2 linked regions of the Homo sapiens genome follow. The protein of the gene in region 1 purifies or fractionates together with the protein of each later gene. This does not show direct contact. Each region holds a gene or a part of one and is shown on either strand. Other genes may lie near its edges.

Region 1 (3,653 bases):
GGTCATTGTTTTTAGGGCTTTTCAGTGGACAAAAGCTAAGGAACAATATGCATATGTTAAGATAACATACTTCAAGAGTTCATAATGATATTCCCAGTTCAAATTTGGAACTATAAGTGTTGCTTAGCCCCTTCCATCTTACATCTGCTATTTCCTTTTTCATACCAAGAATCCTGGTTCTCAAAGATATGAGAGATGTAAACTATCTTGTAATGACTCATTTCCTTCTTCCCATATCATATACAATATATAACCATAATCATGATATCATCTGCTACCAAAATAATTACTGAAAATGGTTTACAATTTTTAATATTTTTTTCATTCTCTTCCTGGTGTTTCTGAGTTGTACTTTACAAACTGTAGTCTCTCCCTTACATCTCTTGTAGACTCTTAGTTCTACAAGCAAGCATTATTTAATATTCATCAACAGTCTTTGCTGATGTCTCTCCAGTCATTCTGACTAAAGCTCATTCTCTAGTGGCTCCTAAGGAGGGACTTGTGAGCATTATAGTCTGATTTTTTTACATGTCAGTGATGGTTCATCTGCTGTCTTAATATCTGAAAGTCAGTTTGGCGGGATATAAAATCCTTGGCTCATGTGCTATTCTTTGAACAACTTTTTTTTTCCATTTCCTTCTGGTATTCCACCAAAGTCTAATGGACATCTTATTTCCTTTATAAGTCTCTTGTTCTTTTTATCTGCACTACCCAAAGAATTCTTTTTTTCTTTTTCTTCAGATATTATTAGTTTTACCAAAAATATGTCTTAGTAATTGGCCATTCTGGGTCAGTTTTTACAGGTACATGATGTGTTCTTGAGAGTTTGACTTCAAGTACTTTTTAAAATTTTTTAAATACTTTTTGTTAAAGAAATATTTGTTGAATTACAGTCCTTAGTATTTGTTCTGCTCCCTTGCTTGCTTTAATGTTCTTCTTTGGGTCTTCCTATTATACGTATGTTGGATTTTCTTTGCCTACCTTTTTTATTTGTCACGTTCTCTTTAATCCTGTTTATCTCTTTATTTCTATTTTACTTAAAAAAAATTTTTTTTTTTCTGGCCAGGTTGGAGGGCTTACACCTATAATCCCAGCACTTTGGGAGGCTGAGGCAGGAGGGTCACTTGAGCCCAGGAATTCAAAACCAGCCTCGACAACAAAGTGAGACCCTGCCTCTACAAAAAATACAAAAAGTAGCCAGGTGTGGTGGCACGCACCTGGAGTCCCAGCTGGGGTTGGGGGATTGCTTGAGCCCAGAAGATTGAGGCTGAAGTGAGCCAAGTTCACCCCAGTGCACTCCAGCCTGGGCTACTACAGAGCAAGACACTGTCTCTTAAAAAAAAAAAAAATTATTTATTTTCCTCTTAAGGCATTATTATTATTATTATTTTTTTTTTTTTTTGAGACGGAGTCTCGCTCTGTCGCCCAGGCTGGAGTGCAGTGCTGCTATCTCGACTCACTGCAAGCTCCGCCTCCCAGGTTCACGCCATTCTTCTGCCTCAGCCTCCCAAATAGCTGAGGCTACAGGCGTCCACCACCACACCCGGCTAATTTGTTGTATTTTTAGTAGAGACGGGGTTTCACTGTGTTAGCCAGGATGGTCTCGATCTCCTGACCTCATGATCCGCCTGCCTCAGCCTCCCAAAGTGCTGGGATTACAGGCGTGAGCCACCGCGCTTGGCCAGCAACATTTATTTTGAAGATAAAATTATTGCAAGAGTTTGATAATTTTAGAAACATAAAGTGAATGTCCCATGACGTTAAAATATAGGTAATCATGCTTTAAGAATGATAAATTTATTTTTATTTTATGAATATGATACCTATGGCTTTTTTAGTTTATAAGTTACAGGAACACTTAAAAAATACCTTATAAGACCGGACATGGTGGCTCACGCCTGTAATCCCAGCACTTTGGGAGGCTGAGGTTGGTGGTTCACTTGAGGTCAGGAGTTCAAGACCAGCCTGGCCAACATGGCAAAACCCTGTCTCTACTAAAAATACAAAAATTAGCTGGGTGTGGTGGCAGACGCCTGTAATCCCAGCTGCTCAGAAGGCTGAGGCAGGAGAATTGCTTGAACCCAGGAGGCAGAGGTTGCAGTGAGCCAACATCACGCCACTGCATTCCAGCCTGGGCGACAGAGCAAGACTCCAGCTCAAAAGAAAAGAAAAGCCTATGGAGACAGAAAATGGATCAGTGCTTGCCTGTGGCTTGGAGTGGGAATAGGACACAAGGGGATTTCTGAGTCTGAGAGAAATGTTCTAAAACTGGCTTACAGTGATGACTGCACACACATAAAAAATGCTTTATAAAATTTCAATCTCTACCCGCCCTGCTCCCCGAGATGGAGTCTTGCTCTGTCACCCAGACTGGAGTGCAGTGGAATGATCTTGGCTCACTGCAACCTCCACCTCCTGGGTTCAAGCGATTCTCCTGCCTCACTCTCACAAGTAGCTGGGATTACAGGCGCCCGCCATCGCGCCTAGCTAGTTTTTGTATTTTTAGTAGAGACAGGGTTTCACCATATTAGCCAGGTTGGTCTCGAACTCCTGATCTCAGGTGATCCTCCCGCCTCAGCCTCCCAAATTGTTGGGATTACAGGCGTGAGTCACCGCGCCCGGCTATAAAATTTCAATCTTACTAAAATACATTAAGCGTAGAATATAGTAGTGACTTCTTAGTTTTGGGTACTTGAAAAAATATAGCATGTATATATCTGGTTTGTTTTCATTTTTTAACTTTATGGTTTCATGATGTCTATAAACTAAAAAAAAATCATATACATATTTCTAAATTTAGGTTAAATGTGCACAGTACTGGCCAACAGATGACCAAGAGATGCTGTTTAAAGAAACAGGATTCAGTGTGAAGCTCTTGTCAGAAGATGTGAAGTCGTATTATACAGTACATCTACTACAATTAGAAAATATCAATGTAAGACCTTTCTTGCCCGAAATTGTGGACTTTATATGATGGTTTAAAGAATTATTCTTTATTATTAGATTTGAAGTTTGATAAGCACATGCATTTGGATAATTCCTATAGTATCTAGCCATAATCACGTGTTTTTAGATTGTGTGTCTGCATCTAGTAGCTTTCTGAGGACTCTGAAGAAACAGTAGAAACTAAGAATTTCAAAGTTCAGTTTGATATTTGGGGATTAAAAATTAATTAATAGAAATACATGAGGATTAATAGAGAGGGCTTTAGAATCAGGCAAACCTGGATTCAGATCCAGCTCTGCTGCTTAGTAGAGCTGTACTTTAGACTTGTTCCCCACCCTCACTGATCCCTTCCTCATCTGTAAAATGGAGGTTACCACGCCTTCCCTCCGGGGCTGTCCTGAAGGTCAAATGAGGATGTGTATGCAGAGCACCTGACCTTAGTAAATGCCCAGCAAGCAATAGCTCCCAGGACCTGTGACTGCCAAGAATAGCAAAATAGTCAAGAAAATAACTTACAAAGCTATTGTTAAGTGATTCACAACACAAAAATTTGTCCCTATTGAGTTGGAAAAAAAATGGTGTTTTATATATATATGTAACACGCACACATACATACATACATACACACACATGTATAAATGTGGCATGTGGTCTCAAGAACATTTACTTGGGTGTTTGTTTGGTTGGTTGGTTGGTTGGTTGATTGG
Region 2 (3,653 bases), on another chromosome or scaffold:
ATTCTCCTGCCTCAGCCTCCCAAGTAGCTGCGACTACAGGCACCCACCACCCCGCCCGGCTAATTTTTTGTATTTTTAGTAGAGACGGGGTTTCACCGTATTAGCCAGGATGGTCTCAATCTCCTGACCTTGTGATCCACCCACCTCGGCCTCCAAAAGTGCTGGGATTACAGGCGTGAGCCACTGCGCCCGGCCAATTGTGAGTGTTTCTTAAAGCTTCAGTTTGGAAATCAGAATCTCTGTGGATGAGGCTTCAGTGTCTGCATGTTGAACCAGCACCCCAGGTCATTCAGATGCACCCCAAAACTTGAGAACTACCAACCTAGAGTGCTTAAAAGTCTTTCCTTTTTGCCCTTTGTTCACACTGGGGTCTTGGGTTCTTTGCTGCACAATAAGGTTTCTTTTTTCCCTTCTAAGCAAATATTCATGTACTTCTGTGAATCCACATGTTCCGTGTCAGCAGTTGAGGCCAGAAGGTTTGGCAGAGAAGAAGCGAAACTTTGTCTTATAGTACCACAGAAAGTCAGATCGTGTTAGCAATCCCCCAGCATGGAGGCTTTGAAATTATTTTCAGTTGCAGAATCCTTTCCACAAATGAAAGTCTTATGGGGAAGTGTAATTTGAAAACAGATAAAGGTGGTGTTATTCTTGTTGAAACAGAGGTGGAAGACTCCAGGCTGCCACTAAATCTCACTCTTGTTGCTGAAGGGCCTCTAAGAATCTTTGTAGCTCCATGGGGCAGGCAGGAAACTGCAACTCCTCTACTCCAAGGAGTTAAGAGACCAAAGTTCTAGACATTTGTTGAGCTTACTGTGTGACCTTGGCAAGGCACTCTTACTCTTTGGCCACAATAATTTCATCTGTAAATAAGGAGGTCGAATGGTATATCAGCTAGGGTAGTAGCTGCAGTAACAAATAGGTCCCCAAAGGCATAAGGGCTGAAGCAAAGCAGAGCTTTATTATAAGGCAAGTATTTCTGAATGGAGGGTGGTCCTCTTCCTCATGGTACTTCAGTGACTCATCTGGTGGTCCCACTCTCTCCTCAGATATCCTCATTGTCTGCAGCCAGGTGCACAAGACAAAAGAAAGTATGGAGGTGGCATATTTGCTTATCTGCTTTGGCCTGGAAGCAGCAGACATGACTTCCACTCACATGAGAACTATCATGTGGCCAATCTAGTTGCAAAGGAGGCCAGGACATGGAGTTACAAGGATATGAGGTTCTTGGCAAAGAGCAGCTCTTTCCCAGCCACAGTCGTGTATTGTGGACAGGGAGAATGAATTTTTGTGGACAGCTACCTGTCTCTGTCACAAATGTGGTGACCTCTTGGGTTGCTTCCATTCTTTGATTCTAAGTCTACATTTCCATTAGTCAATCTTAGTTAACATGGTGATGTTGGACTCACAACATCACCTATCCTCAAGGTAATTCCCATCAAATATACTAAGTAAATTTCCAGACTCCAGGCCCCTAAACATGGATTTTTCTGAAACATAGGCAACTGCCATTCTCTTTTCCCCCTGGAAAAAGGAAATAAGAATAATGGTTTGATAGAACATGCTGCGGGTTATTAAGCCAAAGGTATTTATATCCATTATCTACTTGAATCTCCCTACAAGCCTACATGGAAAGGCCTCAGGACTATCATCCCCATTTTATAGGTGAATAAAATGAGGCTCAGAGAGCTAAAGGGACTTGCCTAAGGTCACACAGCTCATAGCAAAAGAATGGGATTTGAACGAAAAACATCTTATTCCTGTCCTAGGGCCCCACTGCACATTTGAATGTTGGTGTTCATGTACGTGTACATGGTGTGGTTAGAGTCGGGATTTTCCTTGGGCTGGGCTCCCCCAGGGCTGGGCATGAGGGAAGTGAAAGCTCAGGAATCATGCTCAAACTCCCCAGAATGGGCCAAGGCTGCTGACTGTAAGGCAGCTGGGTGGTTGTCCTAGGTCCTGGGGTGAAGAAGTACAGTGTGACCAAGTATTACAGCCACTGGCTGTGTAAAAGAGAAGGGACAGTGCATGAGGGTGTTGTGTGGTCCTGGAAGACACTGAGGCTTCAACTGGGCTGGCCACATAGTGGGTGCCTGGGAGCACTTTCCTGTGTGAATAAATGCATGTGGGAGTAACAGCTGCAGCACTGTGAGAAAATGAGATGAATCAGACCTGCTTCCTGTCTTTGAGGCCCTCAGGGGAGGAGAGACAAACTTGTAACATATACTTTTATTAATTCACTCAACAAACATTTATTAGCATCTACTACACGTCTGGCTCTCCACAGGGCAAGAACGATGGAAAGACAGGATTCCTATCCTTGTGGAACCCATTTGAGAGATGAGGAAAGTGAGGCCCTGATTGGTTACGTGACATTCCCAAGATCATTTGGCCAGATTAGGACTTGAAACACCTGGCTTCCAGCCCAGCACTTTTTCCATAGCCCCTGCTGAGGAGGTGGCCGTAGGCCAGGACTGAGATGCAGTGAGGAGCCCCTGTTATTGGCAGCCACTTTGAGCTGCCGCCGGACTCAGGACATGCTGGTTTCAGGCGATAGCACGAAACCAGTTATTTCTTTTTAGAACCTCTAGATTTTTGCAGCAATGGACACAGGTATGAATGAGAAAAAGTAGAAATCCTTGCACTGTCAGATGGAATCAAGAGGCAGTAATTCTACGTGGTGCTATCAGAGAAAGAAATGTTGACGTCTGGGTGACGTTGGCTGGTAGCACACTGTGGTGATGATAGATCCCAGATCCAAGTGCTCCAGAGTTGAGATCCCAGCTCTGAACTTTAACCTCCTGAGCCCCTCAGCTTCCTCATTCATAAGGTGGGCATGCTATGAGTACCTGCCTGTCAGGGTTATGGTGAGATTAAATGAGTCCATATCCATCAAGCACTGAGTACAGCACGTGGTCAGTTCAGTGAAGGCATTTCTATTTTTATTTTTGGGACAGTGAGCTTTGAAATTGGCCTTTGCACATCTGGGTGTCTGGTGCCTTGTGATCTTGGGTTCCCAGACTGGAAAATGTCATTTGGGCTAGTCTCTTGCCTCCATGTCTGGCCCCAAGGAGAGGTCTTGGGCTCTGCTGGTGGAGAGTGCCCTGGGCCTCACTGTCTTCACCATAGACAGTCTCTGGCAATGTTGGAAGTACCAGCGGCTGACTCAGCAGGGAGGTCAGCTGCTATCCAGGCAGAATGTCAGAATCGGTTCTGCTTTCTTGGGGTATAGGACATGGGTCCTCAGATTCCAGCCCTGGGTTCCTGCTGAGGGCAGCTCTTGTGCAAGGAGGTGGGTGGGTGGGGAGATGGGTACAAAAAACAACAGTGAGCACACTTGGTTTTTCCTCCTGGAAATCAGGGGTCAGAGAAACAGGAAGTCAATGGAGAGAGGGTGTGGTGTAGTGAGAAGAGGGCAGGCCCTGTGGTCTGGCAGATGTGAGTTCTAATCCTGGGTTTGACACCTATTGATTTATTTTTTATTTTTTGAGACAAAATCTCATTCTGTCACCCAGGCTGGAGTGTAGTGACATGATCACAGCTCATTTGCAGCCTCGACCTCTGGGGCTTAAGTAATCCTCCCACCTCCTGAGTAGGTGGGACTATAGGCATGCATTACCATGTCTGGCTAGTTTTTGTATTTTTTGTAGAGACAG

The links. Proteins that work in one complex are often made in the same cells at the same time.
Region 2: the proteins of PTPN2 (region 1) and CMKLR1 purify together in Homo sapiens (co-immunoprecipitation; one large-scale study listed by IntAct). This does not show direct contact.

What each region holds. Positions count from the first base shown.
Region 1 is NC_000018.10:12,825,092-12,828,744, reverse strand, and holds part of PTPN2 (tyrosine-protein phosphatase non-receptor type 2), read left to right. Parts: intron 1-2,800; coding exon 2,801-2,935; intron 2,936-3,653. UniProt on the Homo sapiens protein: Non-receptor type tyrosine-specific phosphatase that dephosphorylates receptor protein tyrosine kinases including INSR, EGFR, CSF1R, PDGFR.
Region 2 is NC_000012.12:108,332,807-108,336,459, reverse strand, and holds part of CMKLR1 (chemerin-like receptor 1), read left to right. Parts: intron 1-3,653. UniProt on the Homo sapiens protein: Receptor for the chemoattractant adipokine chemerin/RARRES2 and for the omega-3 fatty acid derived molecule resolvin E1.